Homo sapiens: one gene and its partner. The protein of the gene in region 1 purifies or fractionates together with the protein of each later gene. This does not show direct contact. Each region holds a gene or a part of one and is shown on either strand. Other genes may lie near its edges. The genes, in order: DHX32 and NUDCD1.

The links.
Region 2: the proteins of DHX32 (region 1) and NUDCD1 purify together in Homo sapiens (co-immunoprecipitation; 3 studies listed by BioGRID and IntAct, with this or other methods). This does not show direct contact.

The regions. Positions count from the first base shown.
Region 1 is NC_000010.11:125,869,822-125,886,897, reverse strand, and holds the start of DHX32 (putative pre-mRNA-splicing factor ATP-dependent RNA helicase DHX32), read left to right. Parts: upstream 1-5,605; 5' UTR 5,606-6,073; coding exon 6,074-6,355; intron 6,356-17,076.
Region 2 is NC_000008.11:109,314,012-109,331,087, forward strand, and holds part of NUDCD1 (nudC domain-containing protein 1), read right to left. Parts: intron 15,924-17,076; exon of another isoform or gene 15,825-15,923; coding exon of another isoform or gene 15,794-15,824; intron 8,453-15,793; coding exon 8,298-8,452; intron 1-8,297.

The DNA of each region.
Region 1 (17,076 bases):
CATACTTGATGTTGCCTCCTCAGCATGTGCAGTTTACAAGCGGTCCCACAAAGATCAGTGATCTGCTAGAGCAAGCGTGATACATGCCATTGTCTGAATCTCAGTGCAGCTTTGTACTTTTCAACATGATAACTCTTCTGAATTGATCAAGAAGAAAGCAGCTTTAATAAATGTTGAAAGGAGTTAATTTGGGGTTTGGATGTATGATTCAAGGGACGACCAGGAGCCTCTACAAATATTCCAGTTTGTGGGTTTGTGAGTCTTAAAGAATTCTAAGAATAGCAAGAGTCTATCATATATCATAAACAGAAGGGAACAAAAAAGTCACATAAATCCAGAAACATAGTGAATTCCTGATAGAAGTGTTTAAACTCTATGCAGCAGTAGTAAACTACCTTGAACTTAGCTAAGAGTGAAATAATGAAGGACGTAACTATGCAAGATAGACTGCAGTGGAGACACTAAGCCCTGCTTCATAGAGCTCACATTCCAGTGAAGGGCACCAACAGAAAACAAAGAGGGAAAATGTATACATTATGTTAGGTGGTGGTCTTAAGGAGAAAAAATGAAGCAGTTAAAGAGGTTAGGAAGTGGTTTTTGGGAGTGTGGGAGAGCGGTAAAAGTTTAGATAGGGTGGCCAGGGAAGCATTTACTGAACTGCCATTTGGTAACGACCTTTATGCAGCAAGGAAGCTAGCCATTTGGATATCTGAGGGAGGAACATTTCAGACATACAGAAGGGTGAACACCAAGTTCCAGAGGCAGGCATCTGCCATGGTGTTTGAGGAATAGCAGGGGAGCCGTCTGGCTAGGGAAGACTGAAGTAGGAGCTGTTGCAAATGAGGGCAGAGAGGCGATGGGTCCAGATCATACAGTGATTGTTGGTCCTCTTAAGGATTTTGGTTTTTCCTCAGAGTGAGATGAGATGGGAAGTATTGGAGACTATTGAGCAGAGGAGACATGAGCTGACTTTAATAGGATGACTCTGACTGCAGGCTTGAGACCTGACTGTAAGGGGCTAAGGGTAGAGGAAGGCCGGTTAGGAGGCTATTGCAGTAATCCAGGTGAGAGGGGTAGTGGCTCAGACCAAGTGTTCACAGTAGAGGTTATGGGGCACTTGATATTTTTTGAAGACAGAACTGACATGATTGAATATATTAGTTTTCTATTGCTTCTATAAGAAATTACCATAAATTGAGTGGTAATTTATTGTCTTAACAGCTTCGTAGATCAGAAGTCGGTTGTCGGTCTCACTGGACTACAATCAAGGTGCCAGCAGGACTGTGTTCGTTTCTGGAAATTCTAGAAGATGATCTGTTTCCTTGCCTCTTCTAGCTCCTAGAGGTCACTCACATCATTCTTCGGCCGTGGCCCCTTCCTCCACCTTCAAAGCCCACAACATTGCATCTCTCCGACCTTCTTCCATAGTCATATTTTCCTCTGACTGTGGCTAGGAGGGTCCTCTGATTGTTAAGACTCATGTAATTAGATTGGGCTCACCAGGATCGTCCAGGATAATCTTCCAATCTCAAGGTTATTAATTTAATCACATCTGTAGAGTCCCTTTTGCCATGCAAAGTACATATTCATAGGTTCCAGGGATTCCTACATGCACATCTTTGGAGGCCATTCTACATACCACATCAGTCGAAGGACCAGATGTGGGATTTAAGATAGAGAAAAATCAAGGGTAACTTCAAATACTTTGATCTGAGCAATGGGAAGGAAGGAATTAACTGAAATTGGGGGGACCAGATTTGTGGCTTTGGGGTACATGTTGGGAGCTCAGTTGCAGGCGTGTAAAGTCTGAGTTTCCTATTAAATATCCAAGTGGGAGATGATGCATAGGTAGTTGAATACATGACACTGAAGTTTAGATCGATGGATCCTAAGGACAGATACACCCATACATCCAAGTATGGATGGCACTAAAGCCATGAGATGAGATGAGACCACTTAGGCCCTATTAAAGAGAGAAAGGGGAAGAGAGGTCCAGGAACTAAGCATTGGGAACTTCCAGATATCTACCAAGTGCTAAAATTATGTATTTGGGTATTTGATACATGAAAAGTAAGCAGTAATATTGGCTTGAATACAGAAAAAAAAAACACACAAAAGAGGAGCACTGAATGGTGAAACATAAGTTACTCAGGACAAATTAATGCTTTTGCTTCACTTAATGCCTTACAAACTTTGTCTTTCCATTTCTGTGAACTGTATTTCTAGAATTACTGGACCAGAGCCAAACACATAAATGACTAAGACATAGCTTCATCTTACATTGACTTCTAATTCTACCTTGTTAAGGTTGTCTGTTAATTAGATATGTATTATTTTCATGGATGCATGTTTAAGAGCTGTAATAGATTGATTTCAAATAGCTGTCCTTGACAAAGTGTGCCATCTACAATATACATGTATGATAGCTTTGAAAGAGCAAATGTCAATCTTTCAGATTTAAATTTCTTATAGTGGAATGTAGTTTATACTTACAACAGAACAGTTATGAAACTTTATTTTGAATGACATCTAACCTACCATATTATTTGTTTCTCTTTCTTTAGACTGGTACTGTTAAATTTGCCAAAGGCCAAGACATAGATCTTTGGTACATATTTAATTACCTCTAGGAAAAAACATTTACATGGCTTACACCAGTTGCAAGATGAATAAGGAGAGGTATATGAATGTTATTGGAGTCAATGGGCCCAACTCCTCTAGTTAGGTCTCAGCCACTCCACCCTCCAAATTTGGAATCCAAACCATATAGCAGCAAAAGGTCCTTCTGAGTAGTCGAAATAGATGTTCCAGAGTCTATAAATGTCATAGTTTTGCGCCTCAGACTCATTGGATTCAATGGTAGCATCCTTTGTGGACTCAAGCTTTACAAATGTGTCTGTCAAACAAGCTTGTCTGGCTTCTAATGCACCGGTTAGGAGAGCAGGTTAGAAAGGCAGAGAAGAGCCTCACAAGGTAAGAGGCCACACCACACAGTGGCATGGGTTCTGAGTCCCCAGGGAAGAGCAGGGCTCCAGGAGAGCAGTCTGGTCTTTGGCTTCTGTAGATTTCGGAGACATCTGAGGACATCATTCTGTTTTGGCAACTGATGTAATGGTGACCTTGAGTCACAATGAAAAAGTTAAATTGTGAGTATAGTTTATTTAAGAAGGCAGAAGTCTGGTTATCTGTTTCTGCAAGTCAAACCACCCTGCAACTTAGTAGCTTACAAAAACAGTGACCATTTGTTGTCTCATGATACTTTGGGTTGTATGGGCTCCTGTGGATGCTGCTTCTGCTCAGTTGGCTGGGGTTGCAGTCATCTGGAGGCTCGACTGGGCTGGGGCATCTTAGGCAGCTTGTTCACATGGTTGAAGGTTTATGCTGCTGTGGACTGGAAGTTCAGCTTTGGTCTCTTCCCGGTGGCTTGGGCGTGGGTACCTCATAGAATGACAGCTGGTTCTAAAGAGGAGTGTTTCAAGCATGGGAATATCTTGGAAGTGATTCAGTATCACTTAACTGCATTATTTTAGTCATAGTGACACTGGTCACAGGGCCAGCTCAGATTCAAGGGGAGAGGAAATAGACTCTACCTCTCCATTTGGAACAGTGGCAAATAATCTGTGGCCATCTTTAATTCCACTATAACAGAGAAGTGGTTAAGGCTAATGTGTGTGGATACATTGCACAATGTGTGATGAAGGGGCCAGGTAAGTCTCAGGTCTTTAGAAAGAAGACTATTCAGAAAACTTGATTATTTCCTCAGGGTTCAAAGTGGTCAGTGCTTTATAAGTAAGAATTTACTGTAATTATAAGATTATTACACTCTTAGGGAGTATTATAAATAAGAGAAACATTTCTTTTTGGTAAAAATAATAGCTGTTCTTTTTTTAAGGTAAAACAGTTAAGAAATACTACCTAAGGCAATCATTGGTTATAATATTTAATAGCAATTTAATTTACATGTAGGCTGAGAACCCTTGGAAGGGATTCTAATCAGAACAAAAGAAAAATAGAATATAAAATTAAATTTTAACTTCTCTGAAGAGTGGAATTTTCTGATTCTTGGATACCTTCCCAGAATTAGCTTGTGCGATGATCTCAAGCTACCATGCTTCCTGGAGCTATTCTGTGGGTCTACTCTCACCTTATAGAGGCAGTGAAGAGTTCTGAAGTGAATCCATATTACAACATTTCTATTATGCCTTTGTAATTCCATTTTAATTTTGAAACACTGGCTTTTAGATGAATTTTTAAGAACTTTACTTGGGAAGAGCTATGAAGTTCTTCTGCCTCTCTGGTTACTTACCTCTAAACTAGCTTGTTCATCTGTGAATTTTAAAACTTTCTATCCTGCTCTTGCTGCCATCTTCAAAATATCCTTTATGTGTGTATCTAGTGCCTAGTTTACTCATCTAATAAGCCCTTAGAAGACACTCAGCAAATGTTTTTTGAGTGATTGACTGTTGCCCTGGAGCCTGTCTTGACCAATAGAGAGAGAGCTTTTCTTATCACTTACTAATTAGGAACTAGCTGTTGAGCACACTGGCTCCAACCATCTAAAGCAATAATTAAGGTAAACCAGGTGATCCGAAAAGTGCAGTAACTTACAAAATATCATGAACTGTATTTTATTATTCTTTTTAACTTGAGTTTTCTTTTTCATTTTTATCTGGTTAATGTGAAAAGGAGCTTATTTCCAGCAACACTAATGGAATTTTTCTTTTTAATCACTAGTAATTGGAAGGGGAAAGACCCTTCACCTGACATGTGGGGACTGAGTTATTGGTATAAATCTTGCTCTTTCTTGGGTGATTTCTCTTCTTCATTTAAATTAAAAGTTGTCCTTAATGGCCTCTTGGAGCTGACATGTTGGGCTCAAGACCCAGGAATCTCAAGAAATATGCTAGAGATTTCTGGTTTAATTAAACAAAAGACCTTATTAATAAAAGCCAGCCAGCTGGGCATGGTGGCTCACATTTGAAATCCCAGCACTTTGGGAGGCCAAGGAGGACAGACCACTTGAGCCCAGGAGTTCGAAACTAGCCTGGGCAACAAGGCAAAACTCCGTCTCTACAAAAAAATACAGAAATTAGCTGGACATAGTGGTGTACACCTGTAGTCCCAGCTACTCAGGAGGCTGAGGCAGGGGGAAAACAGCCTGGGAGGTTGAGGCTGCAGTGAGCCATGATCACGCCACTGCATCCAGCCTGGGTGACAGAGCGAGACCCTGTCTTTTTTATATATATATAAAATAAAAGCCAACCATAACTACATATGGAAGGAAATAATAAATTCATTCCCCTCACTTGGCTTTCTAAACTGACATAAGCAAAAGGAAAATGAAAAGTTTTAAAAATGTTTTTCATTAAAGTAAAGGATTTCTTAATAATAGATTTTCCTGTAGCCTGTGTTAGAGGAACACTCACCAGGTCATCACAGTTCTTTCCTTTTATAGGGTCCAGCTCCTCTTTTGACATGGGATTAGGTGACCACGTGATTGATTAGCCTCACAATCACAATCCTGTCCCTCCTGTTGCTTTCCATTCACAGTTGATCAAGACGCAGAGCCTGAGATAGAGGTCAGGCAGAGAGCACGAGGCCCAGTGCAGAATCATTTTCTGAACCAGCCAGGAAATACCGGAACCCACCAAACTTTAAACACCAGCCTAAATTATTCCTGTTCTTTTAAGCAGGCAGCAGAAATGACAGAAACCCGTTAACAGAAAAAAAAAAAATAATGCTTTTCATTTGAACTCCTGTGCATTTTCTTTTTAACTTATATGTGTTCCTAATTTTCCTTACTCTTTTTGTTTGTTTGTTTCTTAGTGTGGTTTATTGACAATCATTTACAATGCCGAAGAGTGCTGTAGTGAGCCAGCACAGTGGGTAACACAGCAACGGAGAACAGATGCAGGTTTGAGGAATTTAACTTGCTAAAACCTTGAACTGAAGTCTTAGAGATTGGAACATACGGGTTTGTATAAATAGGCTTTTAAGCCCTGTTTGCAATGGGTTACTGATAGGAGAAACTTGCTTGTGGAATGTCAGCTGCGTGAGCTCACTGTCAGACAAGATGGAAGAAGAAGGGCTGGAGTGTCCAAACTCTTCCTCTGAAAAACGCTATTTTCCTGAATCCCTGGATTCCAGCGATGGGGATGAGGAAGAGGTTTTGGCCTGTGAGGATTTGGAACTTAACCCCTTTGATGGATTGCCATATTCATCACGTTATTATAAACTTCTGAAAGAAAGAGAAGATCTTCCTATATGGAAAGAAAAATACTCCTTTATGGAGAACCTGCTTCAAAATCAAATCGTGATTGTTTCAGGAGATGCTAAATGTGGTAAGAGCGCTCAGGTGAGTAACCACTACAAAAAATAATTTGCTGTATGTGTTGATTTTTTAATTGTTATTTAATGACATGTCACAGCCTAGTGTTCTAATAATAGTGTCTAAAACAAAAAACAAAACATTATTCAGATAAAATAATTAAATCACGTACCTAATTTTATTAATTTTACTAATACTAGCTGAAAAGTTAATAATATCTATGTAGAAATTAATTGTGTTTAGGGTACCACTGAATTGTCTATAGAGCAGTATTAAAATTACTCAAATGATCCTAGTATTAAATTTACTCAAATGATCCATTGTGTATATGATATTTTAAAAGATGTGATGCGTGTTATTTCCTCAGCATGGGTATGGGGATTAACTGCTCTGTTTCAGTGCCCAGTGGTCTGAGAATCCAGATATGTGGATGTGCTTGCTGGTGAAGCTGGCTGAGCTACTGAAATCAAAAGCACAAGGAAATTCTGATTTTCCTGACTATAAGAAATAACTGAGCAACTAAATATGATCCAGGCCTGGGGCCACACACTTTGGGGTCTAAGATGGGGGAAAGAATTAGGATCATTAAGAGATAAACCTAGGGATATTAAAATATTAAAGAGTTGGAGCAGGCACAGTGGCTCACATCTGGAATCCCAGCACTTTGGGAGACCAAGGTGGACAGATCATTTGAGCCCAGGAGTTCAAGACCAGCCTGGGCAACATGGCAAAATGCCGTCTCTACAAAGAAGTAGCCGGGCATGGTGCTGCATGCCTGTCGTCCCAGCTACTTGGGAGGCTGAGGTGAGAGAATCACCTGAACCTGGGAAGTTGAGGCTGCAGTGAGCTGTGATGATGCCCCTGCATTCCAGCCTGGGCGATGTGAGTGAGAGACCTTGTCTCAGAAAAAAAACAAAAAAAACAAGGAGTTTGTTTGAGCAAAGAATGACTCATGAATTACGCAGCACTCAGAACCATTGGAGGTTAGTGAGCCCCATTCTAGCAGCAAGGGCAGTGAGCTTTTATAGGCTGAACATGAAAGTAAGACAAAAGACATTTAAATTGGTTAGAGTGGAAAGTTCCGAGTTAGGGAATAGTTGGCAGTTTCTGATTGATAAAGTCTAGTATGGTTTTACTGTTTACATTGGACTTTAGTTTGCTTATGTGGGACCTTCTAGAGCTCTGTCATTGCCTCAGCCTAATGGCCTCTCAATTAAAGTTTGTTTGTTTGTTTAACGGGATAGTGGGCCAGGTGCAGTGGTTCACACCTATAATCCCATCACTTTGGGAGGCTGAGGCAGGAGGATTGCTTGAGTCCAGCAGTTTGAGACCAGGCTGGGCAACATGGCAAGATCCCAACTTTATAAAAAATTAAAAAATTAGCTGGGCATGGTGGTGCGTGCCTGTGGTCCCAGCTACCCAAGAGGCTGAGGCAGAAGGATCACTTGAGCCCATGAGGTCAAGGCTGCAGTGAGCCATGTTCATGCCACTGTACTTCAGCCTGGGCAACAGAGCAAGACCCCGTCTCAAAAAAAAAAAAAAAAAAAAAAAAAACAAGAAAAGGCTGGGCGCTGTGGCTCATGCCTGTAATCTCAGCACTTTGGGAGGCCGAGACGGGCAGATCATGAAGTCAGGAGTTCGAGACCAGCCTGTCCAATATGGTGAAACCCTGACTCTACTAAAAAATACAAAAATTAGCTGGGCATGGTGATGCACACCTGTAGTCCCAGCTCCTTGGGAGGCTGAGGCAGGAGAATCACTTGAACCCAGGAGGTGGAGGTTGCAGTGAGCTGAGATTGTGTCACTGCACTCCAGCCTGGGTGACAGAGTAAGACTCCATCTCAAAAAAAAAAAGAAAACAAAACAAAACAAAAAAAAACACCAAGAAAAACAAGGTAGTGTAGAGAAGGAAAAAGTAATAATTTTCTCTGTCCTTCATAACTCTTATCTGAGGCTCCCTGTAACAAAAGACAAATTAACAGAAGAAAAACAGAAGTGTATTAATATGTATGCCTCATGTATACACGGGAAAACCCCAGAGAAATGAGCAAGTCTCTAGAGTAGATCTCAAAGAAAGCATTTAAATTTTGGGCTTAAATACCATCATTCTCTGAAACAAAGTAAAAAAGGTTGTGGGGAACAACCCTGTTAAGATGAGATGGCCAGGAAAAGCACCTTAAATGAAGGTGAAGTTTGTTATGAAGATGTAAGTCGATGTCTTCTTTACTTAGTCATCTCCTCCTGTTGCAGAGAGGGAGATGCCCTTATAAGCAGAGATTTCTTGTATAGGCACAAATTTATCTTTAAAAAGGTAACTTTTCAGAGCTACTCCTATGTCTACACTTTCTCAAAATGTGCAAAGGAGGCATATTTTGGGGTCACATATTCTGGTCTCCTTCAGTCATATTCTGGGGAGGTATGTCCTGAGCCCCAACATTAGATAGTTAATAAATACTTATTATTCAGTTTGTTGTTGTATTTGGACTTCAAGTTTTTGTTCAAGTGAGATCCATATTTTACTCTTAAGTTTTAAAGCAAGCAACCAGTATTTTTATCATGAAATTCATTTCTAGATTCTCGCGATGTAAGAATTAGAATAGACCATATAGTGTGAATAATAAGAAGTCCCATTTCTCATAGAGAAGTTACGAATAGATCTAGTAGAATAGACTATGCTCTAATAGAATAGAATTAGAAACTGATGGAACCCCTTCATTTTTCAGATGAATAAACTGTGGCCCAGAAGGATTTGATAATTTGTCTATCTAATGTCAGTAGCTTTCTGAATTGGAGTTAAAAGAATATTTTCTACTATAAATTGTTGCTTTCAAGTTGTTTATTATCTCTAGAGTTTACCTATTTTATTATCACTATTATTTTTTGAGACAGAGAGGCTCGTTCTGTCACCCAGGCTGGAATGCAGTGGGGCAGTCTTGGCTTACTATGACCTCCGTCTCCCGGTTCAAGCAATTCTTGTGCCTCAGCCTCTTGAGTAGCTGGGATTACAGGCATGCACCATCATGCTTGGCTTATTTTTGTATTTTTAGTAGAGTCAGGGTTTCACAATTTTGGCCAGGCTGGTCTCGAACTCCTGGGCTCAAGCGATCCTCCCACCTTCACCTCCCAAAGTGCTGGGATTACAAACATGAGCCACTGTACCTGCCCTAAAGTTAACTTACTTTAAAGGTAATTTGAAAAGAGGAGGGCTGGACAACAGATGTTTTTTATCTGATTTACAGCTGCCAGTATCAAAGGTTTATTATGATTTGTTCTTTGTTACGCTGTTATTGTTATAACAAACGATTTCAGTTCATTACGAGAAGCTAACGATGAGAACTGACTGAGTATAATTTTCCTAGTTTCTGTGGACAAATAACATTGAAAAAATGTGTTTTTATTTTACAATAATTTCAAACTTACAAAAAGTTGCAAAAATAGTACAAAGATTTTCCATATGTTGTTCACCCAGATTCCCCAAATGTAAGATTTTACCATATAAACTTTATCTTTCCCTCCCTGCCCCCTCCATACATTCATACACATTTTTATTCTGAACCATTTAGGGGTAGGTTGAGGACATGATGCCCTTTGCCTCCAAATACTTAACAGAGTATTTATTTACTGAAAAACAGTGTGTAGCCGTAACATAATTATCAAAATCTGGAATGTAATGTTGATATCTAATTATTATCTGATTTCTAGACATTCACATTTAATCAGTTTCCCATTGATAGCCTTTATAATCACTGAAAAAAATTGTTTTTCTGGTCCAAAATCCAATCTAAAATTGCATTGTATTTTATTGTCGTTTTTTAATCTGACACAACTCCCCAGTCTCTCCCTGTCCTTTATGACTTTGACATTTTTGAAGAGCACAGGTTATATATTCTGCAGAACCTCCCTCAGTTTGAACATGTCTGATGTTTCCTTAGGGTTAGGTTCCGGCTCTGCATTTGTGGCAAGAAGATCACACAAGTGCTGTGTATCCTTCTCAGTGCCTCATATCAGGAGGCACAAGATGTCAGTTTTGCCCATGCTGGTGATGTTAATTCTGATCCCTTGGTAAGGTGGTATCTGCCTGGTTCTTTATTGAAAAGTTAACAATTTCCCTCCAATCATTTAATAGATACATATTTTGAAAGTATGTAAATGTTTCTCATTATACATTTGTAACCACCCAATGGGTTCATCTTGTTTGTTGTCAAGATAGAGCCAATTTATCAAGACAAGGGAATTGAAATAGAGAATGAATTTAATACACATAAAGCTGGCTAAACAGCAGACAGGAGTTGTACTATTACTCCAATCAGCCTCTTTGTCAATTTGGAGGCTAGAGTTTTTCAAGGATAGTTTGGTGGGCAGGGGGCTAAGGAATGGGTACTGCTGATTGGCTGAGGATGCAATCACAGAGGTGTGGAAAACAGTCCTCATGTGCTGAGTCCACTTCTGGGTAGGGACAACAGAGGAGTTACTGGTCTATCCAGTTATAGGGCCTCCAGTTGTCAGAAATACAAAAACCTGAAAAGACATCTCAGAAGGCCAATCTTAGGTTCTATAATAGTGATGTTATTTACAGGGAGGTTACAAATCTTGTGACCTCTGGAATAATGACTGGTAATCATTTAACTACACCTACATCTTGGCAGAATTCAGGCCCCTCTCATCCTCCTAACCTGGTGTCCTTTCATTAGTTTTACAAAGGCAGTTTCATTTTGCTGTCATCATTTAAACTATAAACTATCTACAAAAGTTAGCTTGGCCCACTGCAGGAATGGCTAAGGGAGTTTGGGGGTGAAAGGCAAGATGGAGTTGTCAGGTCAGATCTCCTTCACCATCATAATTTTCTCACTGTTACAATTTCTGCAAAGGCAGTTTCACATTCATCCACTAGTGTTAGCATTTTTGGTGATTCTTACCTTTGAATTATTACATTAGTAGTAACCAAAGATGATTATTCTAATTCTGACATGCCTTCTACACATTATTTAGAATCTTTCTGTAAGTCTGAGCTTTCTCTCCTTCATCATTTATTTATGTCAATGTGGACTCATAAATTCTTATTTTATTCTATGGGTTATAATGTATTACTAAGCCTACTTACTTTGTTGTTCAAATTGCCCCCAATGTGGCTTCTCTGTCCTTTTGACATTTCCCCATTATTGAGCACTTCTTTGCTTTCTGGCTCAGTAAGATGTTCCAGGTTCATCTAGTACATTCCGCATGCCGGTGTAGAAACCATTTTTTTTTTCTCCAGGAGTCCTTGTTCCGTTTAGTGGTGAACTGTGTTTTGAAACCAAGATCTGGACACTAAGTACCTATTACCATTGGTTTATCATTGCAATTTTTTTTTTGAGACAGTGTTTCATTCTGTCACCCAGGCTGGAGTGCAGTGGCATGATCACGGCTCACTGCAACCTCAACATCCTGGGCTCAAGTGATCCTCCCACCTCAGCCTTTAGAGTAGCTGGGACTACAAGTGTGTGCCACTACACTCAACTAATTTTTGTATTTTTTATAGAGACGGGGTTTTGTCATGTTGCCCAGGTTGGTCTCGGACTCCTGGGCTCAAGCAACCTACCTGCCTTGGCCTCCCAAAGTGCTGGGATTATAGGCCCACTTCACCCGGCCTATCATTGCTTTTAGGCCATCTCAGTGGACACAACAAGGAAATAAATGTATGTGAGTGCAATATACACACGTCTCATTCTATCCATCTATTTGTGGCTCTGTTTCTCTCTGTCTTTCTCTATTTTTATGTATTTCTATTTTCTTACCTCTCATATTTTTTATCTCTCTTTCTATATCTTAAAAACCATGAGTTTGTACTGATGCCTCTGATTCCAGTTTAGCACTACAGGGTTTATTCTAGCCTTCCCAGTTTTCATATCCATAACTTCTCTATGAGAAACAGGGCTTCGTGTTATTCACACTATCTTTACCTGTTCTCAGATTGAACAAGTAAAGATACTCAAAAGAACAATTCATATTGTAGTTTCAGAATTGCTAATCCACACTGCAGTTTAAAAAATTTTTTTAATCTACTTCTTGAGTTTTAGAATTTATCATCTTCAAGAGCAAGAATTGTTATATGTTATATGTTATATTAATACCTAGCAATGGTTTCTCTTGTCATTTTTAATTTCTCAATTATTTCAATGAATTAGGCTTATTTTCTGTTAATTGGGACGACATGTATCTTCAAAGTGAGAAAAATCAAAATGGTACTCAAATAAGAAAATGGATCTATCCTAAACTAATTTAGATAGTGGGAGCATTGGTTGGTTTCTTTTGGAAACAACTTGGTTTTTGTTGTTGTTGTTTTAAGAGTTTGCGAGACTGTTTTCTTGTTCTTCAGAGTTTTAAACCTTTCAAGAAAAAAGTCTTTCTTCAGAGCCAAGCTTTACAAAGGTCCTAAAGATTTCACCTGTCTTTGGTGCAGAAACAGAGGACAATTTCCCATATGTTTATAGAATCTTTTCTTATTACATTTTTTGCAGACAGGTTATGAACGATCCTAAAAGAGAGAGAAAAACATCTCTAGAAGTGTATATTTTGCTTATTTCTCCTTCTCTAGTTTTTGTCCTGAAATTTCCCATGAATGGATGGGTCAGTGAGGTGAAAAAGATATGAAAAGATATGAAAAAGAATTAACTTAGATTCTAAAAGATGTATGACTTAGAACATCTGTACTTCTATTGACTGAGTAAACTTGTTCACCATTTTCTGCTGGTAGGTTCTACCTGTATTCACTCAAAACCAAGATGTATGTGAATTGTTATCCAGGGATGTGTGATATTTGATTCAGAAGGGACCTCACTCCTCAGTAATGGATTCTGATATATTGGCTCACTTTGGGTGGGATAGCTGCCTTAGGGGCATACTCAGGCTAGGCATTTTACAGGAATGTTGTTGAAACCATTAAGACTTGCAAACTTAAAAACCATGAGCTTGTGCTGATGAATTCAACACTGAATGTGTTGAATTCACCTTTGGGTGAATTGGTGGTTCTTTAGATTCCTTTAAACTTGTAGATTCTGTTTTTCTGGTACTGAAATTAAAGGGAGTGATTGGGACCTTGGCAGTAGCTTCAGGATTGGTGGTCCTAGAGACATTAAGAGAAGAAAGCAGAAGAGGACTCAGGCCCTGATGGACGTCCTGATGATCAAAAGTGAGGGATTAGAGGCCTTTGGGACTAGTATGTGTCTAACAGAACAGTAATAGCATTGTGTCTCATGGAGGTCCTTTTTTTCTCACTTCATTTATTCTCATTTAACTATATTAAATTATAGTTAACTAACTTTATTATCCATTAGATGAGGTGAAACAATCACTGGCAGTAGATGGAAAGGACAGAAAGTTCTACACCAGTGTAGCTCATGTGGAGGTCCTCTTGCCACAGTGGCAGTGATGAGACCATACACGGATACGTGATGCCGCTGCTGCTCCCTTGATTCTGATCTGGATCTGGTTGCAGATTCTTATAGGAGATCTCCCTGCAGCCCACCCTAAAGACCCCAGGCCCCAGCTCTCCCACTACCCAGCAGCCCAACCTCTGTGTGCTGCCCGGAGTTGGGAATGGAGCATCTTTGCCTCACTGTCTGAATTTGTACAAGTTGTAGAACTGCAGTTGCTAACTTAGGTTGATAAAGCCTTGATTTAGATTAGATTTTGATTACCCGGAGGACTCCTCTTACCTACTCTCATAGCAGCAGATTGGCCAGAGTGTTGGTGATTTCCTTTCAGGTAGGCGGTAAGAGGCCAGGGATGCACATTCTCATGCCTCGATTGCTTACCTTGCATGCCCCAGAGTCAGTTCCAGCTGGGCTTTGGGACAGAGCATAGGGCAGGCCCCACTGCTCTGGCTTTATGCAAATGGCACATCAGAAGTACAGAAAACTGAATTTAGAAAATGGATTGAGAAACATGAAAAAAGTATTTGGTGAGTTCAGAATAAAGAGATGTGAAGTATTGATTTCTAGTTAGGGAGCATTTCCAGACCAAATGCGTAAATCCAAGGGTTGCACATCACCAAACTCCCAGGATAAATCACATGAAAATAGCTTTTTTTATGTGTTAGAGGAGCAATTTTCTGTTTCTTCACCATATTGTGCAACTTTTGCTAAGTACTCAGTCACAAAGTGACCCAGAATTCAATGTTTCTCTGAAAAAAGTTAAAGCCAAATGATTCATAGAAAGGTACAACTATTTAAGCTTTTCTAATTCCCATAGTGCCAACTTGGCAACTAGTCCATCCAGAATAATGTTTTTTAATACTAGGGGGGAATATCTTCCAAAGAGGAACTATGGGGTAGAAACAAAACCTCTAACAGGCTTGTAAGTCATTGGTGAGAAGACAAAGATGCAACTGGGACAATGAAAAAGTTGCTAAGTAGTACCCAGAAAAGTTAGGCCAGGTGTTGTGGCTCACACCTGTAATCCCAGCACTTTGGGAGGCCGAGGCGGGCGGATCACCTGAGGTTGGGAATTGGAGACCAGCCTGACCAGCATGGAGAAACCTCGTCTCTACTAAAAATACAAAATTAGCCAGGTGTGCTGGTGCGTGCCTGTAATCCCAGCTACTTGGGACGCTGAGGCAGGAGAATTGCTTGAACCCGGGAGGCGGAGGTTGCAGTGAGCCAAGATCCTGCCATTGCACTCCAGCCTGGGCAACAAGAGTGAGACTCCATCTCAAAAAAAAAAAAAAAAAGAAAAGAAGCAGAACTAGGGGAAGAAAGGTCAATACCAACAAGAGATACAATATTTACTATAAATGCAGAGAAGGCAAGAGTTCTTTGTAAAGCTGCAATCTCAGTATCCCTTGAAATGTGAAATACTCAAATTATCGACATTTGCCAAATGATAACATTTTTTAGCCAGTAATTCAAGTTTGCTAAGGAATCAACCCTCAGTATGTTACTTAGCTTGCCCAGAGTGATTCAGAAGGCATGTAAAACTGGAGAACTCTAACAAATAAGGCAGATGGTTTCATGTTTCCCTCTTTTCTGGCTGGAGATAACCTTTTCAGTTTGTGTTTGCATTGCTTACTGTTAACTATCTCCAAGTAGCTGTTACTGGAAGGGGAGCTGCATCCTATGTGGTCAGAGCCACAGTTGAGTACGTGCAGTATAATTTGTTGTGACTTCTGCTCAACTATTAACTTGGGCACGTAAGCAAACATTCCTACATTAAGCACGATATGGATATGTTCAGTCTTCTACTGGTTATTGTAACTGATATTTAGATGGCCTTTTCCCATTTCTGAATTAATGTCTTTGCCTCATAGGTGAAATAGTTTGCTCTAATGTAGAGGAAGGCAGAAAAGGAAAATGAAGACTGTTGGATTGGTATATTTGTTGTACTTCCAGGAATGTATAATGTTTATACTATTATCAACACACTGTAATAAACTAATCTTGCAGAATGTGTTTCATGAGCAAAGAGAAATAAATTAAATGCAGTTTTTAAAAAAGGCCCAAATCAGAAGCTTGAGAACATGGCTCATGATCATTGGAATCTTGTCGAATTTTAGAGTTCGAAAGCAGCTGTCCTGGACCTTATATGAATAACCAGGCTGAACGTGTCCAAATGTTTTAATAAAACTGGATAGTATTATTTCAGCAACGATTCTAGCTATGTAAAGCAGTGCCCACTGTCATCATAGTACTGTCCCCCTGATGTTGCCATTAGGCTAGAAAGAGTAGTTTATTTATTTATTTTTATTTTTTATTTTTTTGAGACAGAGTCTCGCTCTGTTGCCCAGGCTGGAGTGCAGTGGTGTGATCTCAGCTCACTGCAACCTGCGCCTCCCGGGTTCAAGTGATTTTCCTGCCTCAGCCTCCCGAGTAGCTGGGATTACAGGCACCCACCACCACGCCTGGCTAATTTTTGTATTTTTAATAGAGATGGGGTTTCGTCACGTTGGCCAGGTTAGCCTCAAACTCCTGACCTCTCAAATAATCCACCCGCCTTGGCCTCCCAAAGTGCTGAGATTACAGATGTGAGCCACCGCACCCAGCCTAGAAAGAGTAATTTAAAATGCTGATTGCCTGAGAATTTCATGGCTTCAGTTGCCACCTTTCTATAAAGATGCTTAGAAGCAACTGTGATGTAGTGGCAATTATACTCGCCAAGAAACTAGAAGATATGGATTGGTTCTGGTCATGCTGTTTACTGGCAGTATGACCTTGGACAAGTCACGCCTCTAAGTTTCTTTCCTCATGCATCAAATGAGGGTGTTGGCCTTCATGTCTTCCAGAGATTTCTTTCAGTACTGAAATTCTGCAACTACCATGCCTATCTCTAGCTCTGACCTCTCCCTTAGCCTCCTGCCTTGCTTTTCCGTTGATCCCAGGATGGTTATGCCTGGATGTTCTTCTGATAACATTGACCATCTTCCTGACTATCCTGAAGGTCATCTTCCTACCCTCCTAACTCCTGATTCCCCCCAAAAGAACTTTATGCTGCTCTTTAGCTTCATTCATTTATTTTATTTTACTTTCCAATTTCCTGTTCTTGTCAATTATATAATTAGTATTTTAAGTTAGAAATCATAGAATATTTGTCTTCTTCCTATGCATAATTAGTCTGTTAGTGGGCACTGCTTATTCTTCCTTTGCAGTAATTTTCCCGTGGTTTTATTACCTCTCTCCCATGCTTAGCACTAAGCCCAAGCCTTTCTCTCTCTTCTTTTCAATTATTATGATGTCCTTATCCATCTTTCCACTCAACTCTTATCCCTACCATATGTC
Region 2 (17,076 bases), on another chromosome or scaffold:
CAAAGTACAGTTTAATTTTAAATGGACTATAAGCAATAAAATATCTTTTTCTCTAAATCCCAAAATATAGCATTTACTTATATCTGAATAACCTCTATTGACAATTTCACTACATGCCCTCATAACAACACTTTATATGCTAACTGACATCTATAATGTCCAGCTCTCACATAATCATTTTCTTTTTCCTCACAAAAAGAGTTAATGTAACTACGTTCAAGGGCTAACACTGAAAATCATTCTAAGGCAACATTACACAGCTGACTGCAGAAGGATTAAAATTTCATTGATGAACGGAATACTTACTGAATCAGTATAATGTATAAGAATTTTATTAAATAAGTGCTTTGACTTTTTGCCATGTCATGTATTTATCACCAAACTCTATGAAGTTAAAATTATTAACTACACTTAGAAGAGAGGTTCAAAAAGATTAAATAATTTGCCTGGAGCTCCACTGCTAGAAAATGACAGGGCCAAGACTCAAATCCTGATAAAACCCTACTCCAAAAGTTGGTTTTCTTTCCCCTACTCCACATTTGCTTGAGAAGAAACCACTTCTGAAGATTTTCTAAATAAATTAATACTTCAGATCTCAATACAATTTCTAGTATACCCATCCCCAACCCCCCAAATCAACCTTGAATGTAACTACTATATTCAGTTTTTCTTCAGGCCTCTACACAGTATTTTTAATGCAGATGCCTGGGTCAATATAGATGTAATATAAAAATTATAATGCCCATATATTATATATAAATGACACTGTAAATAAACAGTAAACAAGTAATACATAAACTATATATATTTATAAAAAACATCTTTAAACACATTTTGGGACCCTCTTAGTTGCAGCTATAAGTAGAGAATCTTTGAACTAACGAAGTAGTTTTCTAATAAATATAGATTTATAGAAAGGGCTACTCAAGTTTAAAAAAATAAGCAAGTGGGGATACCATTTACTAGTATTATTAGATACTATTTACTAGTATTATGAGACAATGATATTTAAAACTTTGCCGTTTTAAAAGGCAGTGATCTTTTTCTGGACAAAGTATTTTCATCATTAATAACCATTAACTTTATTTGGAAGAAAGAACATAAAAAGTTCCTTTTTCCTTTTCCCTTTTTTTTGTATTAAACGCACAGTTCTACGTATTTACCCCACTCTTTATTTTTTTCTTTCATCAGGCATTGCAGCTCAAAAAATGTTACTCCGAAATAATGCCACTTCAACATGAAGCAGCCTCAAGGTCTTTCTGGCCTCCCCTCCCTTCCTGTTTCTCCCAAGCACAGGATGAAGCTATTCTCTGAAGTTCCTTCATCTACCTATAAACTGGACCTGCCAAAGAGAAACACAATTGCTTTCCCTGAAATTTCATTAACCAGAGAAGATTAAAACTTCTATCACAGAGGAAGAGGCTGAAAATTAAACACCCCACCTACAGCCCAGATGAACTTAGTCACAAACCATTGTCTGCTCTCCATCCCATTCAATTTCCAAAGAAAAGTATTAACTAATCATTGTCTGAGCATCAGGCCCATTCATTCATTTCCCCCTAAAGATCATTTGCTATCCCGCATGTCCCCCATGTCCCCTACTGATCAAGCATAAGAAGGGTATGAATAAGGGTATATAAGCATCTGTACCCCACTGGGTTACTGGGTAGTCATTTTCCTGGATTCTGCCATGTACACATGTTAAAATATATTTATATGCCTTTTTCTCATGTTAATCTGCCGTTTGTCAACAGATTTTCAGCAAACCTTCTAAGAATAAAGGGGACACTTTGCCTTCGTCTCTACACAGGTAAGTAAGTGGTCCCCTAATAATTAACTCAACTGTGAAAACAAGCTGACATTCAGGCCTAGAGATGAACATACTGACATAAAACTGAGCTCCTCTAACAAATAGTTGTAACATGTCACTCCAAGATGCAACCTCACACATATATTCTTACAAATGAAATCCAGTAACTGCCCCTTAGACCTTTAAGTACAAATTAAAGAGGCACTATAAGATGACACTCTTTTAGTAACAGAAACAAATTAGCTTTTCAGGTAAATACAAAACAAATTATTACAGAAATAATTTCCTAAATATTAAGAAACGGAACACATTACTTTAAAATAAGCCATAATATATAAAATAAGGATGTATTAAAAAACCAAAGTTTAAACACATTTTTGCTTTCCCAAGGCATTTTCTACTTCCTTAGCACACTTCTTTCCGAGGGACATTTCCCTAAAATTAAGGACTGTAAACCTACAAGTTAAACTTTTTTGTAAGGAGAGTATTCTGTCTTTATAAACCAGTATGTAGACCTGCTGCCACCTGTTGGCTCCAGACAGTCTGAAGACCTAGCAACCTATGGCTTTCAAGTGTTGGGTCCCATAGCATTCACTTTTACTACAACAGTTCAGGTTTAACAAAGGTGGTCATTTGTACATCAGTCACAGAAAAGGAGCCTGTCTAGGATTTGTGCACGTGTGCCTTTGATGAAAACAAAAGAAAACAAAAAAAATTATTAAACAATAAAATGGATATTGGAAGAGCTGTTTTCTGCTATAAGCCAATAGTCTAGTTAGTGGTCAACATTCTCTACCTGCCTGCACCTGACAGAAACTCAGAGTAGGTTGATTTCATTTGTTGCTGATGAGAAAAATAATAAAAAATAAGTGTAGTATTCTTCTGTATCCCAGGTACAAAATTTCTTAATACCTGGTCATCCCTGGACCACAAGCAAAACCACCTGAGGTGCTTGATAAAATGCAGGTTCCCAGTCCATGACCAACCCTGACAATAATGAATCAGAATTTTGGGAAATGGTACCTTGAAATTAGTTTTTGTTTTGATCAATTACTCCACAATTATTCCAAGGTACAATATGGTCTGAGAACCAAAGAAAATTAAGCAGAAAACAAGCTTTAAGAACCTAAAACATGGTTCTTTAAAAATAAACTAATACCTTTCCTAAAGCTTGATTAGGTAAAAAGAGGAAAAATATAGAAAGGAAAGAGAAAAGACAACAATAATCTTAAGAGCATAACGCATGCAACTTTATAGCAGCATATTTGGAAACCTAAGAGGAAACTGATGGTTTCCTCTAATAAAAATACATATTACAAAATTACCCTAGAAACACACTTTGAATAAACCCATTACTGCACAAAAAACTGAACAGGTGATTAGAGAACTGGCACTGAAAATGATAATAGAGACCAGGAGCAGTTGCTCATGCCTGTAATCCTCCAGCACTTTGGGAGACTGAGGCAGGCGGATCTCTGGAGCCTAGGGGTTCAAAACCAGCCTGGGCAACATGGTGAAACTCTGTCTCTATTAACACATAATATCCGTCTCTATTAACAAGAAATAAGGAGAACTGGTAGAGCACTGTGGCATTCTGGAATAAATGAGTTTAAATCCAGACTCTTACAAACATCCTATGCCTCAGTTTCCTCAACTGTAAGATGTGGATAATAATAGTATCTGGTATATCAGGATAATATCAGGATATTATCCTATGAGAAAGGATCCACAGGATCCATTGTTCTGTGGATTAAACAGTTAGTACGTGTAAAGTGTTTAGAATTGTTCCTGATATGTAATAATCTCTATGCAATAAAAGTTACCTGACATTATGATTTATTCTTATCATACAGTTCTACTGCTCTCAAAGAAGGAATATGTGCAAAAAAAACTAGCCAGTGTTTGTCTCCCATAAAGTGATACCCCAAGGCATATGCCAGTAATATCTCTTTATATTTGCATAATGCCTTCCACTTTTCAAAGCATTTTCACACACCTTGCTTTAACGTCTAAAAAACCTTATCATTATTCTTATTTTCTATGAAACTGAAGCCAAGGATATATGGAGACTGCTGTACCCTTTTTGTCAGCTACATATTACCATGTAATAGTTACCTGTACACTCATATTAGCACCTAAAAAGTATAACATATAAGTTACCTGAACTTATATGTAGAAGTATAAGTACTTGAACATGTTAAAAATAATGGTAAAACAGTTTTTATTTTTGCACCAACCTATACATTAGTGTCCTACACAGAGCAGGTTTTCAATAAACACGTTAAAATGAACTCATTTGGTAAGTCTGTCTTAAATGTCTAGTTTCCTTTTGACCAACTACCCTACCTCCCTAACAACACGTATTAGAGCTACATTACATGTGCCACAAGATATCTATGGAAAAGTAAAATAGATTATGAATATGGATGGTACTACAAAAATTAACACTTTCAGATCTACCATAATGTCATCTGACTTCGAGTCAGAAAATTGGTAGAATAAATGTTATTGGCAAACTTTATGGTACAGCAAATGCTATCAACAAATGCCCTATTTGTTAACACAAAAAGGATTAAGGAAAAACTTTCATGCACATACACACAGAACTCTACATCAAAATCTATTTGATCATTAAAATTTATTTGATCAGAGAGATCAGAGCATAGCCACTCATAAAAATGCATGTCCTATCACTTTAGTTGGCTTATACACATTGGGCCTAGATAGTAATCCTTAGTAGAACATGGGGCTAGCAAGAAAAAGCAACTAATATCTAAGAGTAAGAGGCCAGATTGCATTCCTCTGATCCAACAAGAAACAATCAGAATTTTACACTATCTGTTTTAGGAGTCACCTGAAGGAAAATATTTATTACCAGGAAATGTCTAACTCCTTTCTGAACATTTTGAGATAAACACTGCATTGCCAATACAGAACTCATACCTACACTTGGATTAGAAATAACAGGAGGAAGACCCTATTCCAAAGCCAACTCCCAACAGTAATAATGAACTTTACACAGCTATTATCCATTCAACAAATATACTGATCAAGCCTTCTGCTGGGTGCTAGAACCCATGGCCTCGTCCAGTGGGTGGCAAACTATAGTCCACAGGCCAATTCCTGCCCATTTTATGTTTTTTTTTTTTTTTTTGAGACGGACTCTTGCTCTGTGGCCCAGGCTGGAGTGCAGTGGTGCGATCTTGGCTCACTGCAAGCTCTGCTCACTGCAAGCTCTGCCTCCCAGGTTCACGCCATTCTCCTGCCTCAGCCTCCTGAGTAGCTGGGACTACAGGGACCTGCCACCACGCCTGGCTAATTTTTTGTATTTTTAGTAGAGACAGGGTTTCATCGTGTCAGCCAGGATGGTCTCGATCTCCTAACCTCATGATCCGCCCGCCTCTGCCTCCCAAAGTGCTGGGATTACAGGCGTGAGCCACCGCGCTCGGCCCATTTTATGTTTTTGTAAATAAAGGTTAATTGGAACACGGCCACACTCACTTGCTTATAAACTGTCTATGGCTGATTTCACACTACAACAGCAAAAGCGAGCAACAAGAGACTATCTGGCCCACAAAGCCTAAATTAGCTGGCCTTGTGCAGAAAAGCGTATCAACCTCTAGAATAGAAGAAATTCACAGCACATGTAGATTTGAGAGCCAATGGTGTGAATATTCCTAGGGGAACAGAGGTAAGATGTCAAGGCAAGCTTGCTAGATGACAAAATGGTTACCTAGGACTTAAGTAAAGATTGCAAAGCAGACTGACACTGAATTAAAAGTATGCTCCAGGTAGTTAATCAATGAGAAAAGGACCAGAAGAAATAGGATACAGCACATGTCTCAGGAACTGCAAGAGTTTAGTATGGCTAGAATGTAGTATACAAAGTGCTGTAAGACAAGGTTGGAGAAAACTCGGCATATAAACGTATATGCAAAGATGAAAAGTTTATTTTAAGAATATATATCATTTCATCAGGGAGCCTGCCCCAATATTCACCTAGGTTCTTTTCTATTTTCCCTAAGCATCGGCCAGCTTGAGAAATTAAGGGACAGAGTACAAAAGAGAGAAATTTTAAAGCCGGGCATCCGGGGGAGACATCACATGTCAGTAGGTTCCATGATGCCCCACTAGCCGCAAAAACCAGCAAGTTTTTATTAGGGATTTTCAAAAGGGGAGGGAGTGTGCGAATAGGTGTGGGTCACAGACATCAAGTAGTTTACAAGGTAATAGAATATCACAAGGCAAGTAGAGGCAGGGCGAGATCACAAAACCACAGGACTGGGGCGAAATTAAAATTGCTAATGAAGTTTCAGGCACCATTGTCATTGATAACATCTTATCAGGAGACAGGGTTTTGAGATCAACCGGTCTGACCAAAATTTATTAGGCAGGAATTTCCTCTTCCTAATAAGCCTGGGAGCACTATGGGAGACTGGAATCTATTTCACCTCTGCAGTCTCGACCATAAGAGACGACCATGCCCAGGGGGGCCAGTTCAGAGACCCACCCCCAGGTGCACATTCTCTTTCTCAGGGATGTTCCATGCTGAGAAAAAGAATTCAGCGATATTTCTCCCATTTGCTTTTGAAAGAAGAGAAATATGGCTCTGTTCCGCCCAGCTCACCTGCGGTCAGAGTTTAAGGTTATCTCTCTTACTCCCTGAACAATTGCTGTTATCCTGTTCTTTTTTCAAGGTGCCCACATTTCATATTGCTCAAACACACATGCTGTACAATTTGTGCAGTTAATGCAATTATTACAGGGTCCTGAGGCGATAGACATCCTCCTCAGCTGACAGGATTAAGAGATTAAAGAAAAGACAAGCATAGGAAATCACAAGGGTACTGATTGGGGAAGTGATAAGTGTCCATGAAATCTTTACAATTTATGTTTAAGAGATTGCAGTAAAGACAGGCATAAGAAATTACAAAAGTATTAATTTGGGGAGCTAATATATGTCCATGAAATCTTCACAATCTACGTTCTTCTGCCATGGCTTCAGCTGGTCCCTCCATTTGGGGTCCCTGACTTCCCGCAACATCATTTTGTGTTTATACTTGCAAAAAACAACAACAAATAACCTACCACATCTGGAAAGACACACAAAACCAATAAAGACATTGCAGGGGAAATAATGGATACTGGAGATAGGATAGATAAAAGATGGGATCAAGGAGGCTTCACTAAATACCTTTTATAACTTTTTTGGTTTTTAAATTACATGAACACATTGCCTATTTTTAAATTACATATTAAAAACATGGATTTTGCCATGAAGGAAATATTAAAAGAATTTTAGCAAGTGATAATATTAAACACGCAAATCAGACAGACTACTCTGTAGATGCAATGCGCAGGAGGGCTAGAAGGAATAGAGTACTTAGGAAGCTATTAACAGATTATTGGCTGTTTGAAGCAAATATATTAACAATGTATTGTGGAGTTTCCAGCATATGAAGGTGAAAAACATATGATAAAATTAGCTCAAACAATGAGAGGGTAAGTGAAAGGAATTATATTGTTGTAAAGTTTTCACATTGTTTTTAAAGTAAAATAATATTAATTAGAGGCAGACTGTGGTAAGTCAAGGAAAACACTATAACCTCTGTATCAACCATTTAAAAAATAATAATACAAACAGGTTTAAATAAAAAGCCAAAAGAGGAAATTAAATCGAGTTCTAAGGACATTTTTTTTAAAAAGAAAAACTGTGATTAATTCCTCCTGCAAAAAAGTAGGAACAAAGACACCAAGGAACAAAGAACAAACAGGGCATAATGAGAAGAGCAAGATGGTAATATTAGCCCAAGAATATTGGGAACTAGATTAAATTAAGTATAAATGTAAGCCCTCCAATTAAGAGAAAGACTGTCATATGGAAAAAACAAGAGCCAACTATATGCTCTTTATGACACATACTTTAAAAACAAGAACACTGATAAATAGAAAAAGCATATAAGAAGAAAAATACTAATTTACAAAAATCCAGAAATAACTGTATTAATACCAAAGAAGATTTCAAGACAAAAAATATTCACAGAACCTAGAGATAAAGAGACATTTTAAAATGCTAAAAGAATCAATTCAGTATAAATAAAACAATCCTAAATGTTTGTACCAATTAACATAGTTAAAAATACATAAAGTAAAAACTAAAACAAAAGCAAATTCATCATTATAGTTGGGGACAACACCTCACATAGGAAAAGCAGACATGAACAGTTACATCAGTATTAATAATATATAAAATCCATGAGAGTTGCTGCCCAATGGTGAGAGTGGAGGTGAGTAAGTGTAAATAACAGGATCAAAGAGAAAAATTAAAATTGAAATAAGAAATGGAGTATTACGTAGATAGGATTCCATATACTACAGGTATGTGCACCTCACTTCTCTGGATATTAGATTCAAAAGGGAAACTTAATTATCAAATTTGCTTGATATTACATACATATATTAATTATTACATACATGTTTCTCTTACCAGCATTACTGTTAAATTCATAATTCTTCCAAGGGTATCAATATAGTAGACACTGTCTTGATACCATGAATCACAGTGCAGGTAATTATACATTCCAAAAGCATGCATGTGTTCCAGTGTATATTGATCATCTCGAAGTTTTACCTCTGCCACAGCTGAAATACAAGAAAAGCAAACATAAACATCAAGAGTTTTGCCTCAGATAGTTTCTATCTGTAGAATGCCTACAAGGCAAAAAAAAAAATCACAGAATGCCAATCACAAAGGCCTTCAGGACAATTCAGTATATCATTCTTTCAAAGATAATTTCTGGGTACTGTGTACAGAGGATAAACAGTAAGTAAAACTGATATGGTCCCACGTCCTTACAAGACTTAGAATACAGCGGCCACAGGAGATAGGGCTTTTTATGTCATGACCCTCTTTTAGGCACCTCTAATAATTATGAATAAAAATAACAGAAATTCTAAAATTGAAGAATCTACCATTTCCAGGAAAATGTTAAGCCCAATTTATGAAGTGTTTATATACTTTAAAAATGTTTTAATATACTATTATCTCATTCATTTTAATACACATTAAGAAATTAACTTTTAAAATCTCATTATACAGTTATATAAATAAATGTATACACAAATAATGACTTCTCCAATGTTATACTACATCTTTTCCAAGGGTACAGAGCAAAACAGTATCACAGCTGGACTAGAAACAAGATCTCCTACTTACAGAACAGAGATTTCTTCACTTAAGCATTAGCTGCTTCCCTAGGTTTAAATCTAGCAAATGTGATCTCTTCCTCCCACTCCTCCTGCCCTTTCATGAAGATGGAAACTTTCATGGCTCAGAACTGCTCATGATCTGGAATTAATTTCTGCCCCAGCAGGAAACATATAAATGGATTATGCTGGGCCAATATCCTACCCTAATATAAAACTCACTTTACTGTATTCTGATGGCAACTGTTTTCTTCCTCCCCCAAATGCTCACCTGTTCCCACTTCCAATACCTGCTTTGAGTCCTGTCTGACTTATATTCATTTATACAGAAACTAATATAAATTTAAAAATAAATAAATAAAATTTCAATAGGCATCGATGACACAGTGATGAGCCAAGAATGGAATCTTGCCAATTAGCACTTATGATACAGTGAGGAAATGGGCATTAGTCAAATAATCATATAAATCTTAAATAATTTTTATGAAATAAATTTTATATAATTAAATTGTGATAAAGAATAATCACTGGGTACCATGAGAACACATAATGTAAGAGTTCTATTTGGGGAGATTAACAAAAGCTTTCCAAGGTTTGAGCCACGACATAAAAGATAAGAAAGAATTAACTTAAGAAAAAGTATTTTAACAAGAAGGTGAAAGACTTCTACAAGAAAACTACAAAACATTAATGAAAGAAATTGAAGAGGACACAAATAGACATCTCATGCTCATGGATCAGAAATAAATCCATGTACATGTAGCCAACTGATTTTTGACAAAGGTGCAAAGAACATACACTGGGAAAAGGATACCTTCCTCAATAAATGGTGTGAAAATTGGATATCCATAGCAGAAAAATAAAATTAGACTCCTATCTCTCATCATATGCAAAAATCAACTCAAAAACTATAAAAATACCAAAAAGGAAACAGAGAAGAAATGCTTCAGGATATAGGTCTATGCAAAGATTTTATGGTTAAGACCTCAAAAGCATAGGCAAGAAAAACAAAAAGACAAATGGGATTATATTTAACTAAACAACAACAACAACAAAAATACCTTCTGCAGAGCAAAAGAAACAAACAACCTAGTGAAGAGACAACCTATAGAATGGGAGAAAATATTTGCAAACTATTCAATCGTAAGGAATGAAAATTTTTTTTGCTGTTGAAGCAAAAAAAAAAAAGTCCCATTATAAAGAGGGCAAAGATCTTAATAGACATTTCTCAAAAGAATATATAAATAAATAGCCAACAGTTACATGAAAAAATGCTCAACATCACTAATTATTGAGGAAATGCAAATTGAAATCACAATGAGATATCATCTTCCTGTAGTTAGAATGGCTATTTTCAAAAAAATACAAAAAAAAAAAATAACAAATGCTGGCAAGGATGTGGAGAAAAGGGAACATATAATCTGTCAGTGGGAATGTAAATTAGTATAGCCATTATGGAAAATAGTAAAGAGGTTTCTCAAAAAACTAAAACTATAACTACTATACCACAATAGGCACTCCCACAAATGAATATTTATCAAAACAAAAGAAAGTCAGTATATCAAAAGGAATACCGTCACTTCCATGATTATTTCAGCACTATTTACAAAAGCCAAGACATGGGGGAAACCTAAGTGGCCAAAGGATGAACAGATAAAGAAAATGTAGTATATACACACACTGAAATACTATTCAGCCATAAAAAAGAACGAAATTCTATCATTTGCAGCAACATAGATGGAACTGGAGGTCATTAAGTGAAATAAACCAGGCACAAGGCCGGGCGCCGAGGCTCAGGCCTGTAATCCCAGCACTTTGGGAGGCCAAGGCGGGCGGATCACGAGGTCAGGAGATTGAGACCATCCTGGCCAACATGATGAAACCCCGTCTCTACTAAAAATTCAAAAAACAAATTAGCTGGGTGTGACAGTGCGTGCCTGTAATTCCAACTACTGGGGAGGCTGAGGCACGAGAATCGCTTGAACCCAGGAGGCAGAGGTTGCAGTGAGCCGAGATCGCTCCACTGCACTCCAGCCTGGGACAGAGTGAGACTTCATCTCAAAAATAAATAAATAAAATAAACCAGGTACAGAAAGACATCATACACGCAGCTAAAAAAGTGGATTTCATGGAGGGAGAGAGTAGAAAGATAGTTATCAGAGGCTGGGAAAGATGGGGGTGGGGGATGAAGGGAGGTTGCTTAATGGGTACAAACATACAATTAAAAGGATTAAGTTCTCATGTTTGATAGCACAGTTGGGTGACTACAGTTAACAACAATATATTGTGTATTTCAAAACAGCGAGTACCAAAATAGCTAGAAGATTTCAAATGTTCCCAACACAAAGAAATGGTAAATACTGAAGTTGATGAACACCCTAAATACTGATTTGATCATTACACACCGTATGCATGCATCAAAATATAACATAAAATCCCAGTTTATCAATTTAACATATTTTTAAAATAAAAAATACACCTATATACATGCATACCCACTCCTCTACTTTTCCAGACAGAAGGAAAATCTGTAAAAAGTAGGAAGAAAAACTTGTGTTCAAAGAACACAAAGAAGGCCACACTGTTCAAAGAAGGCCACACTGGCCGAAATGCAGAGCAACAAGGGGACTTGTACAGGAAAGGTTGCAATAAATGAAAACTCAGCAAGAACTGGATTATGAATGGACTGTATTTATTTTTGTTGACAAATTCAATTTAAAAGAATTCATTAACAGTTTTTAAGCAGGAGAGTAAAGTTCAGATTTGAGTTTATAAAAGAGTACTTATAACTACAATATGGAAAACAAATTGGAATAAAGCAGGGTAAATCCAGGAAGATCCATTAGAAAGCTATTGCAATCATCTGGTTGAGAGATAATGGAAACATCTCACAGGTAAAAATCCAATTATGATAGATTTGATAGAGGTTGAGGAAACATATAACACCACTTATTTTATAAGCAACAGTTAGAAATATGTATTCTTGGTTTTCTAGCACCACTGTGTGGATGAAACTCGATACTGCAGGAAAACTGCATGGTAACATAAGGGCCTGAAGCAGTAATATTAGACAACGATATAACAAATACATTTTCTTCATATCTGTGCAAAGACCTCTGGGCAATCCTGAACAAACTGGAGGCTTCTTAGACATCAGTCTTATTACAACACTTCATGATTGTTTCATTCCAACAAAATAATTTATATAAGTTATTAAGACACAGATGTGAGTCTAGGCCATATTACATGCTATTTTGTAAAATCTCTATTAACGCATAGAAAAAGGACACCTCTCTGGCCTCAAATGAGAAAGGAAAAGTTATCACATGATGATGACCATGTCAATTATCTTGATTATAAAAGTGGGAGGCAGAGCAACTGAAAGTAGAAAAGCAGTGTCCAGAATGTGACAGTTCTTAGCTACTGGCAGAGCTCTTTTGCAGAGTTCTCCCAAAAAAAGAAGTAGGGGGCAGCGAGGCTTCAATCTCTGCATAGATCTTTGTAAGGGTTGAAGAAGAAGAACTTTTTACAGAGAAGCCAGTGTAGTAAATATTTTATTATTTAATGATACCTTGCATTGAAAATAAAAGAGCTTTGCTGAAAAATCTGATAAGGATTAGTCTTCTAAAAAGAACTTAGGGCCTCAAAAGAAGAGTCTCCCTTAACATTTGCCCAAATACTTACCGAACCTCAAAACCTAGTTTTTCACACATGAAAACCACAAAAGCCTCATGGGACCTCAAAGGGCTATAGTTTTTCATTCATAAATTATTTATTGAATATCTACTATATGTACCAGACATTGTGGTTGGCATTGGGCACAAACAGTGAATAAAACAGACCTGTCTCCTGCACTAATAGTGCTAACGATGATATTCATTACTGTTTCTTGGCTTCTCAAAATACACTATTACTTGAACCACATGATATTGCCAATATTTAACTCTTTGACACCAATTAAATATGATGCAGTCTAATATTTACATAAGCAAAGTATAATAATCTTTAAAGAGGGGGAAGAGAGAGGCCAAGAACGTTAACTTACAAAGGTCACTTCATGGACCACTTAGCTTCTAGAATCAACCCAATAAGCCTTCTTTTCACCTAGTTACTGAGCTTGCTATTTATCTATGAAGGTGTAAAAAAGTAAAAGTACAAGTCCACAAATTCTAAAGCGAGACTTAAAGAACACGGGAGGACCAGAGTTAAGAGCACTGCTCCCATAAAATTATTTTATGCAATACTTCTCTGACCTCAACACATTCATGTGGGTATTTTCCCCATCTTTTCCTCCATAAGGGTAGAGATGAGTTTTATAGTCAACTCTACATAAATACAATGGTTACGTGGCTTTTCCCTCCCTTTACTCTAACTGTAGTGTAAATCTTCACCAGCTTTTCTTCCCTCTGCTCTGAAGAAAGAAAAAGGCCAGAGTGACCACAAAGATCATTAGGAAAAGCATGAGCTTTAGGGTCAGCTTTGCCACTGATGAATAACTTGGTTAAGTTAGCTCATCTTATTGCCCATTTCCTCATCTATAATAAAGGTTAGTAATACTAATTGTACCAAAACATTGACAAGCTTCAGTCGAAATATGCAATGTATTTACTATCAATGCATGGCACATAAGATTAAGCATTGATTTCCCTGTTCCTTTTCTCCCATTCAAGGCTAATTCCCACACAGGTGTTTATGATTCAATTTTCTCCTGCCAGAAGTTATCTCCTGTCCACTGGTGTTTCTCCTCCACTTACATATGCTGAAACTTCCCCACTCGCAAAATAAACAAATAAAAAAGGCTTCCTTTTCTCTGCCTGGCCGCTAAAGCAGAGCTCTCCCCTACCTTGTTCTTCTCAAACTTCTTTAAAAAGCTGTTTATACATCCATTTTCTCACTATACTCATTAGCCCTTTTCAATTGTTTCTAGCTCTATTATTCTACAGAAAATATTTTTTCACTTAAAAATATACATTGAATAACTTTTGTTTGCAGCCAACATGGAAGAATAGGAACCAGATTTATCTTTCCACCAGAAACATCCAATAAGATGAAACAAACCAGAGAAAGTTAAATGAAACAACAGTTTTCAAGACATCAGACATAAAACAACAAAGGACACTTATGAGATTAGCCCCACCACCAATCTAGTTTACTGCCTTGAGGAGTTTCCAGACCACAGCACAAAGAAGGGAAAGTGAGGTATAGTCAACTCTACATAAATACAACGGTTACATGGCTTTTCCCTCCCTTTAACTGTAGTGTAAATCTTCACCAGCTTTTCTTCCCCCTTCTCTGAAGAAAGAAAAAGGCCAGAGTACTTGTATGCAGAGTTGACTTCAACCTCCTTGAGTTGAAGAAACTAGGCTACTACTCTGTCATTAGACAGAGTAGCAGAGAAAAGAGAGATGCAGAGAGAAGCCCAGAGATCTGAGAGTCTGCCTCAAGTACTCAAGAGTACTAATGGCATGTGTTTGAGGAGATTACCCCAGGCTACAGAAAGAACCATCTGAAAGGGTTGAAGAGAAATCCTGGGCACTCACATAAGGCTAGGAACCATAACTGCTCCCAATAAGCAGAATGGAGAAAACCCTTAATTTGTGGGATACTGGGTAGTGTACACAGGAAAGTCTTGCCTCGGTAGTGGGAAATAACCCTAGACTGAGCACTGCTCCTGATCGGACTAACAAATCATAAAAGCAAGAACCAATGGAATTAATCTGTTTCCAAGTAACTCAACTATATCCCGGAAAAAAAACTCAAGAACATTATAAAAATACAAAAATAACCTGCACCTAACAAGGTAAAATTCACAATGTCTGGCATCCAATCAAAGATTACCACATATGCAAAGAGGAAAGAAAACAAAATCCATAATGAAGAGAATTACCAATCAATAGAAGCCAATATAAAACTGACATGGAAGCTACAATTCACAGAACAAGATGTAAAAACAATTATTGCTACATGTACTCCATGTATGTTCAACATAAGTAAGTAGAAGCAAGAAAGATGCAAAAGATTTAAATCAAACTTCTAGATGTGAATATTACAATGTCCAAGATGAAAAATACACCAGATGGGATTAACAAGAGACTAATATTACAAAAAAAAAAAGTAAACGGAACTAAAGGCATGAAAATGGAAACTATTGGCAATAAAACAGAAAAAAGTATGAAGAAAAAATGAAACGGGCATTCATGAGCTGAGACCAACTTCTGTGATCTAAAAATGTGTAACTGGAGTCTTCAAAGGAGAAAAGGAGGGGAAAAAGTTGGAAGAAATAATAGCCAAAATATTGCCATTGATCTTGATAAAAACTATATGTCCGCAGTTTATAGCCCAACAAACCCCAAACATAAGAATCATAAAGAAAACCACAGCTGGCCACAATATTATCAAACTGCTCAAAACCAATGTAAAAGAGAAAAATCTTAAAACAGAAGAAAAAAGGCATGTTATGTATAGAGCAACAAAGATAGGATAATGTGAGATTTCTCATCAGAAACAATATAAGCAAGACTGAGGCTATAACTTTAAAGCATTGAAAGAAAAAACTGTCAACCTAGAATGCAGAAGGAGCAGAGAGATGGTTACAGAAGGGTACAAGGAAACTTTGGGAATGATAGCTAAGTTTAGTATCTTGATTGTGGTGATGATTTCACGGGTGTATACATATATCACAACTTCTTAAGTTGTACATTTTAAATTTGTAGTTTATTGTCAATTATGTCTTCATAAAGCTGTTTAATTTGTGAGACAAATTTATGTCCTACTTACCAGGCATGCTCCAACCCTGGAGATAAAGCATTGAAAACGATGGACATGGGACCCTTCAATACAAAATCAATAATCTTAGCAAAGAAAACATACTGGATGCTACGAAGTATGATAAAGTCTATGAAGTACTGGTTACTATGGCAACGCATAATACAGATTCTATAGTGTAGATTCTGACTAGTCAAGAAAGGAATCCCTGAGGAAGTAACATGTAAGCCAACATGAAAGAATGAAGTATGAATTAGCTAGGTGAAATATAGCTGGGAAACATATAAAAACATATAAAAAGACTTGTACTAAATGAAGATTCTAGGAAAAGGATATTTATAAATGCCTAGGAAGGAAATTGCCGGATCAAAAGACAATTACAATTTGATTAAAAATAAGTTTTTTGTTTCGTTCTTTGGAATAGAAAAAGACAAAGTGACATTTACTGCTTATGTAGCAAAGGAAATTTTGGTACAACTTAATAACATTATTTAAGACAAGAGAATAAGCCTCATTGCATCAAGTTCTTGACACCAGAGACCACATCATCTTTACATCTTAAATGCAGTGTTTCAGGTAGCCAAGGTGCCCATCAAAGGTTTGTGGAACTAAAGTGAACTCCTTCAGTTAGAATAAAAGAAATCAAATTACCAGAAGCGCCTCAATTATGCTTCACTATCTCTAGAAATGATAGTTTTTAAACAAAATAATCTTTTTCATCATCCTCAAGTAATTCCTAATGAAAAACTCATCATGTGAACTATTGCAAAAGCCTCCTATCTGCTGTGTGCAGTCATCTCATCTTCCAAACTCAACCTCCACAGAGTCTGAGGTAAGCTTTTCAACTCCCGTATCTGTTCACGTCCCTTGTACTTAAAATGTGGTACACATACGCCATGGAATACTATGCAGCCATAAAAAGGAACACAATCATATCCTTCAAAGGGACATGGAAGGAGCTGGAAGCCACTGTCCTCAACAAACCAACGAAGGAACAGAACACAAAACACCACATGTTCTCACTTGTAAGTGGGAGCTGAATAATGAGATCACATGGACACAGGGAGGGGAACAACACACACTGTGGTCTGTCAGAGAATGGGGTAGGGGGAGGGAGAGCATTAGGAAAAATTGCTAATGCATGCTGGGCTTAATACCTAGGTGATGGGTTGACGGGTGCAGCAAACCACCATGGCACACGTTTACCTATGTACCAAACCTGCACATCCTGCACATGTACCCCGGAACTTCAAAGAAAAAAAAAAATCGGTCGGAGCAGTGGCTCAGGCCTGTTA